Regions from separate parts of the Homo sapiens genome. Here region 1 is linked to region 2. The links come from fine-mapping of genetic effects on gene expression. Tissue or cell type: left ventricle. Region 2 holds a variant in brackets; the other region holds the start of a gene. All regions are shown on one strand. Distances are between the middles of the regions.

What was found. PIP is the estimated chance that this variant, and not a neighbour inherited with it, causes the effect.
Region 1: GABRA4 starts here. The variant in region 2 is the best candidate, but not a certain one, in a credible set for the expression of GABRA4 in left ventricle (GTEx, PIP 0.57).

What each region holds. Positions count from the first base shown.
Region 1 is chr4:46,990,787-46,995,985 of GRCh38, reverse strand. It overlaps GABRA4 (gamma-aminobutyric acid type A receptor subunit alpha4), which reads left to right and starts at 2,405. Exons shown (of 9, transcript NM_000809.4): 1 at 2,405-2,647; 2 at 3,040-3,158. The coding sequence starts at 2,562. It also overlaps a transcript of GABRB1 not described here. RefSeq lists an enhancer at 1,949-2,018 and a silencer at 2,180-2,474.
Region 2 is chr4:46,969,469-46,974,468 of GRCh38, reverse strand. GABRA4 (gamma-aminobutyric acid type A receptor subunit alpha4) reads left to right here. Exons shown (of 9, transcript NM_000809.4): 6 at 94-237; 7 at 3,234-3,386. Among named protein-coding and RNA genes, the nearest start is that of GABRA4, 22 kb to the left of the region's middle. The variant G/T (reference allele first, on the strand shown) is at 2,448.

The DNA.
Region 1 (5,199 bases), 21 kb before region 2:
TAAATAAAAGACTGTGAAATAAAATGAGAAGAGATATAAATGCCTTTAGTATTATCTTCAGCTGAACTTAAATACTATAACCCAATTAACAAAAATATAACTGGAAGTAGCTACTCTGAAAGAATGTTCTTTTAATTTGAATATAATAGTTTCACAGATTTTAAGTTTGAATTTTAAAGATACGATATGTAACTGTTTCCCCAAAGCCATTATTTTGGTTTCTTAATTTTTTGATATGTGTATTTTTAAAATGAAAATTGCAAGGGAAAGTGGTTTAGAAAATACAAATTTAGGTTTTAGAAAGTATAGGAAAAGGCTTACAAATGTAAGGCGGTGGCTTACATCTGTCATACCAGCACTTTGGGAGACAGAGGCAGGAGGATCACTTGAGACCAGGAGTTTGAGGGTAGCCTGGTGACATCGCAGAGCCCCCACATCTCTACAAAAATATAAAAATATATTAACAGAGCATGGTGACACATACCTGTACTTCCAACTACTTAGAAGGCTGAGGTAGAAGGATTGCTTGAGCCCAAAAGGTAGAGGCTGCAGTCACTATGATGGTACCACTGCTCTCCAGCCTGGGCAACAGAGCTAAATTCTCTTTTTAAAAAGGTAGGAAAGTATTAAGATTAGAGAAATAATATAATATGTGGAGAATCTGTGGTGACTAATGCTTTCATGGCATATTTGGAGGATACACTAGTTCTTCCGCTATTTTTCCCAAACGAGAGAGCTTGATAGTCATCCACATTTATAAGATGGATCTGAGAACAAGCAATTCATTGCTTTGTTTAATTGTTCATTCAATAAATATTTATTGACATTCTATGTGCCATGCACTGTAACAGCAGATAAAATAAACACAGATGAGCAAAAATTACCTAGCCCAGGCCCTCAGAGAGACCACAGTCTATGAGAAAAGAATGATAGAGATGGGATTAGGATGAAGTTAACAAATTCCATGAAGAAAGCAGTACAGAATACAGAGCACGGAGCTCTAGCTACTGCCCACGATGAGCACTTTGGGCTTTCCCTTAGAAAGAAAACTTGAATCCAGACGTTTAAAACACACAAAAAAACCAAAACCCCTGTCTAATACAATGCGTTCCCTCTTCATACCCGTCCACTAGTCATCTCAATTTGAACAAATCATCAGAGTTCCGACTAGAACCTAATTGGTGTTTGGTTCCAAGGTATGGGAATTACTTAGCTCATTGATCCATCATATGAAAATTTCCACATGCATCATTACTAATTTGAAAGACGCTTTTCCCCCTTGGAGCCAATAATTAATGTTTCCAAAGATCTATTGGGAATGCTTATCTTTGCTCAGTAAAACAGTAAAGATATGGAGCTTAGTGTTCCCTTTCATGTCACAAGGGAACTAATATTTGTCCCCCTCCATTTTAATTTATGTATCCTTTCTCTCCATACCCCACCTTCTGCCTCTCTCTCTCTCTCTCTCTCTGTCTCTCTCTGTCTCTCTCTCTCTCTCTCTCACACACACACACACACACACATTTTCTCTTTCCCCCCCCACTCTCTCTCCAGCCGTCCTTTCCCCCTACCTAAAGCAGTCAACCTCTGGAAGTAAGTCAACTCCATTCTGAAAAAGAAGAGTGTCGCAAGAAGTGAAAGTGATTTTGACCAGAGGTCGCTTGTCTCCACCTCTCCCCTCCTCTCCAGAAAAGGATGGAGCAGCAAAGCGGAGGGTGTGCGCGTGTCTGGTGGAGGCGGGTAAAGAAATGGGGTGTCTTTAAAGCAATAGCTTAGCAAATACTGGGACTAGAGTGCGGCTCGAGTCCACTTCCCAATAGTTTGGCGAGAGTCCGCCGGGTGAGCTGCAACCCCTGTTACCAGGAAGAATCTTTCTGCTTTCATTGCTCTCCCTACCGCCCCCCATAACACCTGAATGGGAGGGTCTCAAAGGTGGTTTGAGCCCGGACTTGATCCCCTCTCCTCACCACCGCTACCACCCGACGCCCAGCAGTCCCCGTCACCCGCCCTTTCTCCACCTCCAACCTTGACTCTGGGTACAAACAGGTCCTCGCACAACCTGATGACAGAGGAGCTTCATTGGTTAGATCCAAATCCCAGCGGAAGGGAGGGGGCCAGGAGGTAGGAGGACGAACACTGCTGTGGGCGGGGAGCCCACTTGGGGTCGGGGGCTGCGAAGCCGGAGGAGGGGCGAGAGACCCCGTTCCTCATCCCCGGAGTTACAGTCGGAACAAACTTGCCGAGTCTTGCAGCGCAAGCGCGCGGATACGAACCCCAGAACCTTCAGCGCGCGGGCACGAAAGGGTGTGGAGCGGTATACATAGCTCTACATACACATTGAGCGCTGAGCGAGAAAGGAGGGGGCGAGGAAGGCAGGTTCCGCCTCCCCTGGCCCCGTGCACACACACGCCCACCGCGGCTCGGGCTGGCTGAGCGCGGGCGAGTGTGAGCGCGAGTGTGCGCACGCCGCGGGAGCCTCTCTGCCCTCTCCTCGCACCCTGCTCAGGGCATCTGAAGAGCCTGGAAACGTGAACAGGCTTGAAGTATGGCATGTTGCAAAGATGGTTTCTGCCAAGAAGGTACCCGCGATCGCTCTGTCCGCCGGGGTCAGTTTCGCCCTCCTGCGCTTCCTGTGCCTGGCGGTTTGGTGAGTTCTCTGGGGTGCGAGGAGGTGGGCAACGGAAAGTGGAGAAATGGCTAGCTCCGGGACCCCTTTGGCCACTCGCTCCTCCCTGGGTGGACTAGGTCTTCTTATCTCAGCTGTAAGAGCAGGGGCCGAAGCCAGGCTTTTCTGTGACCGCATAGATGCGGAGAGCACCAAGGGCGCAGGATCCAAGAGGCGTGTGGGCACTGGGGGTCTTGCGGCGGGGCGCGCTTTTCCTGACCATTTCTGTCTTCTGCATCCCAACCCCCAACCTCCTCTCCTTTAGCTTGGGGCAAGCGACTCTTTCCCTAGAAAACAAACCTGTTTGCACCTGTTCTCTGATGGATTCTTAAAATAATCTCCTCCGCCCCCGGTTTTTTTTTTTTCGCTTGCAGTTTAAACGAATCCCCAGGACAGAACCAAAAGGAGGAGAAATTGTGCACAGAAAATTTCACCCGCATCCTGGACAGTTTGCTCGATGGTTATGACAACAGGCTGCGTCCTGGATTTGGGGGTATGAACGATTTCAAACGCGCAAGTGTGTCCTGTCTGTCCCTCTCTTGGTCTTCCTGTCTGTCTGTCTGTGGGAATATCATTAGGTATGCCTCACGTGCAAAAATAAATCTCTCTCTCTTTCTATCTCTCCTCTCTTGGTGAGACCTATGACAAGAAGACCGCCTCCACCCGTACTTTCCCATCTCCCTGCCCCCTCAGAAGCTTTGCCTCTCCCCCACACTAATTACCTCCCGGGACCTGACTGCTGGGTGGGGGAGGTTGGAGAGGAAGAGTCAAAAATGGGAACTCTGGGCTCAGCTGCCTGGACGCTCTTCGCTGAGAATAGTTTCCCTGAACCTGGCCACTTCGCTCAGAGCAGGTTGCATTGGAGGCAGCTGAACCGAAGTCCCTCATCCTCCCACGTGTCCATGCCTATGCCAAAACCTTGGCCAATGTTCTACCTGGGACATAAATCTGGGGCATGAAGCTGCCTGCTCTGCTAGAGAACCCAGTCCTTTCCTTTTCTCTTCTACAGCAGGATGCTTTTCTTTTTTCCCTTTCTTTTTTGGTGATGTGTCATTTGCTTTCCTCCTAAGACTTTAAAGTTAGAGATGTTCCAGCTTGCTTTCTTCAACAAAATAAGTATAAAGGACTTAATAGAGGTACATCCATTAACAGCACTGTTGCTGTTTTTCATATTCATATTTCCTTTGCATATATAATGGAAATCTATGTGGCAAGCTTTGCGCTAGGTACTAGGTCCACAGAAATATTAAGATACAATTCTTAACCTCAAACAGCTTCTCAGTCCAGTTCAACGAGGACAAATGACTTGCTAGGGTCCCATTCATAGGTTTGGCCCAGGTCCTTTGATCTCAAAGTCCCTGTTTTTTACAGTACACTGCACTAATTACCCTTCAGCAACTGAGTTGAACAGGATAGAGATTCTGCCTTAAAGGAGCTTACATTCAAGTGGTAACAATAATAACAGCCAGTAATATTGTATTTATTTAATTAAATGTTCACATATACCAGGCATTTTGTAGGCATCACCACTCTGTTTAACCCTCACAACAAAGCTTTGAAAGCCATTACCATCCCCACTTTACAGATAAGGAAATTGAGTCCAAGTTCCAAGTTAGTAAGTAGGAGGAGAAGGATGTAAACCCAGAGCAGGCTGTGTATTTAAAAGACAAAGCCGTGCAGATGGGGATGGTATCAGATGCTGTGTGATGAGTATCATCTAATATTAGAAGCATGGAGCAACTTTATACCTCCTATTGAGGGTGTGTAGGAGATGACATGTTGGGAGAATGGAGAAAGTAAGAATGGGGAGCAGGACTGCCTGTGATGTGAAGTAGGAGTATGGCCTGGGGCTAGAAACTCTTTCTAGCCTTCACTTGAAATGTCAAGTTTAAAACCTTTATGGGCAGATAAAGTAGAGTTGGGTGTTTCTTTGGCATCTGGTCTCATTTAACAGATGGGGACACTGAGGTTTAGAAAGGGAAAGTGATGTATATAAGGGCACATAGTACATCAATGATAGGATGAGATCAGGTCTTCTGAATTCCAAACCATTATTTTCTTGGATTTTATGAGAAGGTTATGGGAAGTCATTGAGGGTATTGATTCAGCATTTGTATATTTCTTTTTTTTTCTTTGAGATGGAGTCTCGCTCTGTCACTCAGGCTGGAGTGCAATGGCGTGATCTCGGCTCACTGCAACCCCTGGCTCCCAGGTTCAAGTGATTCTCCTGCCTCAGCCCCCAGAGTAGCTGGGATTACAGGTGCAAGCCACCACACCTGGCTAATTTTTTTAAATATATTTTTTGGTAGAGATGGGGTTTCACCATGTTGGCCAGGCTGGTCTCGAACTCCTGACCTCAAGTGATCCACCCTTCTTGGCCTCCCAAAGTGCTGGGATTATAGGCGTGAGCCGCGCCGGGCCAGCATTTGTATATTGACTGATAAGGATAGATGAGAAGGATGAAACTTTCTCCTGCTTCTTTTCATGTTGCCTCTCCAGGGATAGGTTGCCTACACTGCATTTGCCTTCATGCA
Region 2 (5,000 bases):
TCTTTCTTGAACAAGTACTGTTTTTAAGTGTTGACCACTGATGTGGATGAAAAAGGAGCATTGACTCTAACCACATTCTGTGCTCTCTTTTAGATGCCTATCCAAAGAGTGAGATGATCTATACCTGGACAAAAGGTCCTGAGAAATCAGTTGAAGTTCCGAAGGAGTCTTCCAGCTTAGTTCAATATGATTTGATTGGGCAAACCGTATCAAGTGAAACCATCAAATCAATTACGGGTGAGATGTGTAATGATTAAAGCCGACATGCTACTTGGTGTTAGCAATAAAGTTTTCTCCTGACTTTTTCATTGAAATAGTTAATTTTTTCAGGAGAACAACAAACATTTTCCAGAAATAGAGTTGATGCATGAGTTATAGCTCATAATTTCTTTATATTTATAATCTTACTTTAGTTTAAAATAAATTCTGATTTAGTAAGATGCTAAAAGTGAGTTGGTTTTCTTATTCAGAAATGAAAGCCAGTAATCAAATATGTTAAAATTATTTTCACAAAATTATGTGGTAGGAAGTCTGATCTTGTTTTTTGTCTTTGCTTTGTTTCTGCTTTCGGTTTTTGATGATTTTTGTGGGGCTTTCCAAAAATTTTCCTTTATCTTGCCCAATTTTGTGGTGCCACTTTCTCTCATTTTCTGAAAGTAAACAAAAATCTAAAACTTAATTACAAAGTATATTATGGGTATACATTAAGGTTATCACATGAGTAGGGGGGATGTTTATTATTTATGATTCTTGGTCTCTCTTTTCTTTTGGAATGTGAATAGGAAGAATTATAGAATTTAGTTTTTAATCATATTTAGTGGAAAAATTAGCTGATTATTGCTTGTTCTAAGACTGTTCCTTACATACACATATCACCAGAAAAAATATTTTTTATGATAGTTAACTTAGTTTGTTTGGGCCATTGTAACAAAACAACACAAATAGGGCGGCTCATAAACAACAGAAATTTACTTCTCACAGTTCAGGAGGCTGACAAGTCTAAGATGAGGTGCAGTCAGATTCAGTGTTCAATGAGGACCCATTTCTTCGTTCACAGAATAGTACCTTCTATGAATAAGTCCTCACATGGGGACCCCAAAGGTGTAGGGAGTGGGTGCTCACACTGGGGCCTCTTTTATAAAGGCACTAATTCTATTCATAAAGGCTCCACCATCATGGTTTAAACACCCCAAAGCCAACCTCCTATTATTACATTGGCTATTATGTTTCAACATCTGAACTTTGAGGACCACAAACATTTAGACCATAGCAATAGTTAAACTTTATTCAGCAATCACCATCTGATGGGCACCCTTCTAAATTATTTCCATGTATTTTTTTCTCATAACCATCCCATGAAGTGGATACTACTATAACATTTATTTTATACACGAGAAAGGTTTAAGTACAATGTATTTGCCTAAGTCATACAGCTAATAACTGGCAAAACCCAAATTCACATCTAAGTGTTATGACTTCTGAGTTTGTGTTCTTAAAAGGTGTTGACTGCGAGATAAAATGCTAAGACTGCATTAGTAGAAAATGAGTAGTTTTAAGATCTGGAGCAAAGATGTGAGGTAACAAAGTTTTTTTTTGTTTTTGTTTTAAGAAAAAATGGATAAAGCAGTGTTGTGAAGGGATGATGAATCTAAAATAGTCAAACTGAAAGGCAGTGAGAGGAATGGTGGTAGTCAGGGGCCTCCGGGAGGAGGAAACAGCGAGGTATTAGTCAAAGGGCATAGTATTTCTGTTCTGTAAGGTGAATAAATCCTAGATATCCACCGCATAGCAGAGTGCATATAGTGAACAGTACTGTATTGTCTACTTAAAAATTTGCTGAGAGAATAGGTCTCAAATGTTCTTATCACAGAAGATAATAAATAAGAAGGAGGGAACTTTTGGGGGTGATGTATATATTTGTGGCATAGATTGTGGTGATAGATTAATGAGTGTATACTTATCTCCAAACTCATCAAGCTGTATATATTAAATATGTACAGCTTTTTGTATGTCAATCATACCTCAAAAAATTGGTTAAAAATTAAACATAAATAAGATAAAATAGAAATTTATTATGGATAAATAAAATTAATACATAAGTCTTTGTTTTTAAAAAGGAATTTAGCCCACTGTCTCTTCTATTAAAACTGCTTTGTATAAGTCACACACTGTCTTTGTCATAAAATCAATGGCACTGCTCCTCTCTCCTAAATTTCCATTACTTTTATCTTTATGACACCTGTCATGACTATTATCATTTTGAGGAAACCTTCTTCACATCAATTATGAAACAATACAGTAGCTTTCTAAAGGGCACCTTGCCTCTCATCTGTCCAGGAAAATTTATTTTTGGAAGGGCATTTATTTTCCAGTCTGCAAATGGGATTTAGAACACATCTGGTAGGATGTGAGGTTTCTGAATGCTGGCCTCATGGTTTGTGAATAAG[G/T]CCACTGCTTCCTAGATAACTTTCTTCACATATTCTTTTCAGAGGTAACAGTAAAAACACTTATCAACAGCTACCAGAAATCTTATGGTTTATTGTACTTATTAGTTTTTCAGGTTTTTGTCTAAATGCCAGTAAAACATGCTTGAACTCAGGGGTGTTATATATGCCTGTATGTTATACACGTCTATATTTTTCTTCATATAAAGAACATTTAGAAATTCACCTCTTTCCTAAAACTATGGTAGCCTCTCTCTAAGCTTGTGACTGTGTATGAAATCTATATATGAATGAAATTTAAATATATTTATATATAAATATGTATATTTATTACTTTCTAAAATTAAACTTTATATTTTCATAAATGTGTGTGTATGTGTCAGTGTCTGTGTATGTGTAACTGTGTGCATTTCTATTTTTTTCTAGTGGTTTTTCATAGAAGATAGGTCTAAATGCTGTTTCTAAAAAACGCTGAAAATGAAAGCTAATTGCCTTAGCAATATTAGACCATCAAAATAGAAAGCACTACAGAACATTTTTAAAAGTTTTAGCCCAATTTGTTAAATTGCTTAATCATTACACGGAACAAAGAGTTTTTCTGTATAATAACGTTCAATATCATTTTCTCCCTCGTTAGGAAACTACATACTTATTGATGTTTGTGTAGCTATGCACAAAAGAGAATTTCTTTCCTTAGAATCCTGTTTGTTAGTCTGAAATATGTTTATGAAGCCATTGACTAATTGCCTGCAGAACCGATAACACATTTTCCTCCTGTTTTCTTGGCAGGTGAATATATTGTTATGACGGTTTACTTCCACCTCAGACGGAAGATGGGTTATTTTATGATTCAGACCTATATTCCGTGCATTATGACAGTGATTCTTTCTCAAGTTTCATTTTGGATAAATAAAGAATCAGTTCCCGCTAGGACTGTATTTGGTAATTGCAATTCATTTCTTGGGCGTTTTTGTTCACATTACATTTTATTCATGATTCATGGGATATTTCTAAGAAAATCTTAAACCCTAATACATCAGGCTATCCTGAATAAGGAATCACATGGCTTTCATTTTTATCTAGCCAGTACAAAGTAATAAAGCTTGGGGAGATTTGGGCATCCTTCCTTTCCTCTGGGGCCAGGCATCAGATTTCCCTTGTTGAGAACCAGACAGGCATAGACCAAATGTGAATCTGGACATAATCTCACTTTCAGTGATATTCTTGGGCTCCTAGTATAATGCTGTGTAATTGAATTAAAATTATATCTCCATGTTAAAAAGAAATGCACTGGCAGCTTAAAATAAAACAAATAAAAGTCATGGCTGAATGAATATGAAAGCCTTAGAATAATTTAGCTTTTAATGAAGAGGAACAAAATGCAAACGGTTTAAATGCATTGAATTGGAAGGTATTATATGCTTAGTTTATAAGCTCATATATTTACTTACTTCTTTTTTTTCTAAACATTGGTTTTTCTTTTTGTTTTTATAGTGGCTTCATATATACTGTATAGTATTCTGAACAATATAAAGTTCAGAGCATATGAGTTTACAATTTTTATAAGTTAATGTGTTCTACATGTCAGTCATGCTTTTAAATAGTATAATTTGTTATAATTATATTTATTTTAGTTAATGTCTTTCTCTATTCTTTTTCTGTTCATTGTGAGTAACAAAAGCATTCAGTAGTAGAATAAGAAGGAAAATGATCAGAATTGCTCTGGAATGGTGGTGTATTCCTCACAAGAGTGCCAATTCCTCTTTGATTTTCTACCTAGTAGGATCACAGCCATGGTATAATATCCTTTATCACACAATAGCTGAAGAGATGCTGGTGCGAAGGAACTAAATAGAACGGGAACTTTTCATCCTACCTCCCCATCCTTTTCAAGAACTATTGATTAGGGTGTCTTAGTGTCCTCAATGGATCTGAAATACTCTAAAGACAACTATCCTCCCTTTAATCTTAGGTTTCTCTAAGAAGGTGTTGGAGTATGAGGATGCATTAAAAAAATAGAAAGAAAAAGTACTGGAAGTATACTGGAGAAACTCATATGGGGGGGCAATGGTGGAGGGAGGGTGTGATCTTAGGAAAGCAGTGAGGAGGTATAATGGTACCTTAAAGAGTTATAAGGGTTCAATTAAAGAATAACTGCACAACTCAAAGTGTTGAATAAATTTTAGCTCTTAAATATAAGTTTGAAAGCAGAAGAGAGAAAAAAACAAATCTAAGCTGTAGGTGTCAGCAAGTCTAGGTTTAAACCCAAATCTGCCACTTATTTTCTCCATTCATAAAATTATGATAATACATCTCACCCTCATAGACTAGTGAGGATTTAAAAAGTTATGTATCGTTCTCAATATAGGGTATCTGGACCACTTAGTTCGTATTAATTACTTTCTCCAATACTTCTCTTATCTAAGGAAGATAGATTTTGTTCAGACTTAGTTTCCTTGACTTTTAAGTGTTTTAAAGAAAGCATAACTTTCTAGTGTTGTACTATTGGATGCTCTGCTAACTTCTTGATGTTCATTATCTCATTTAACACTCAAG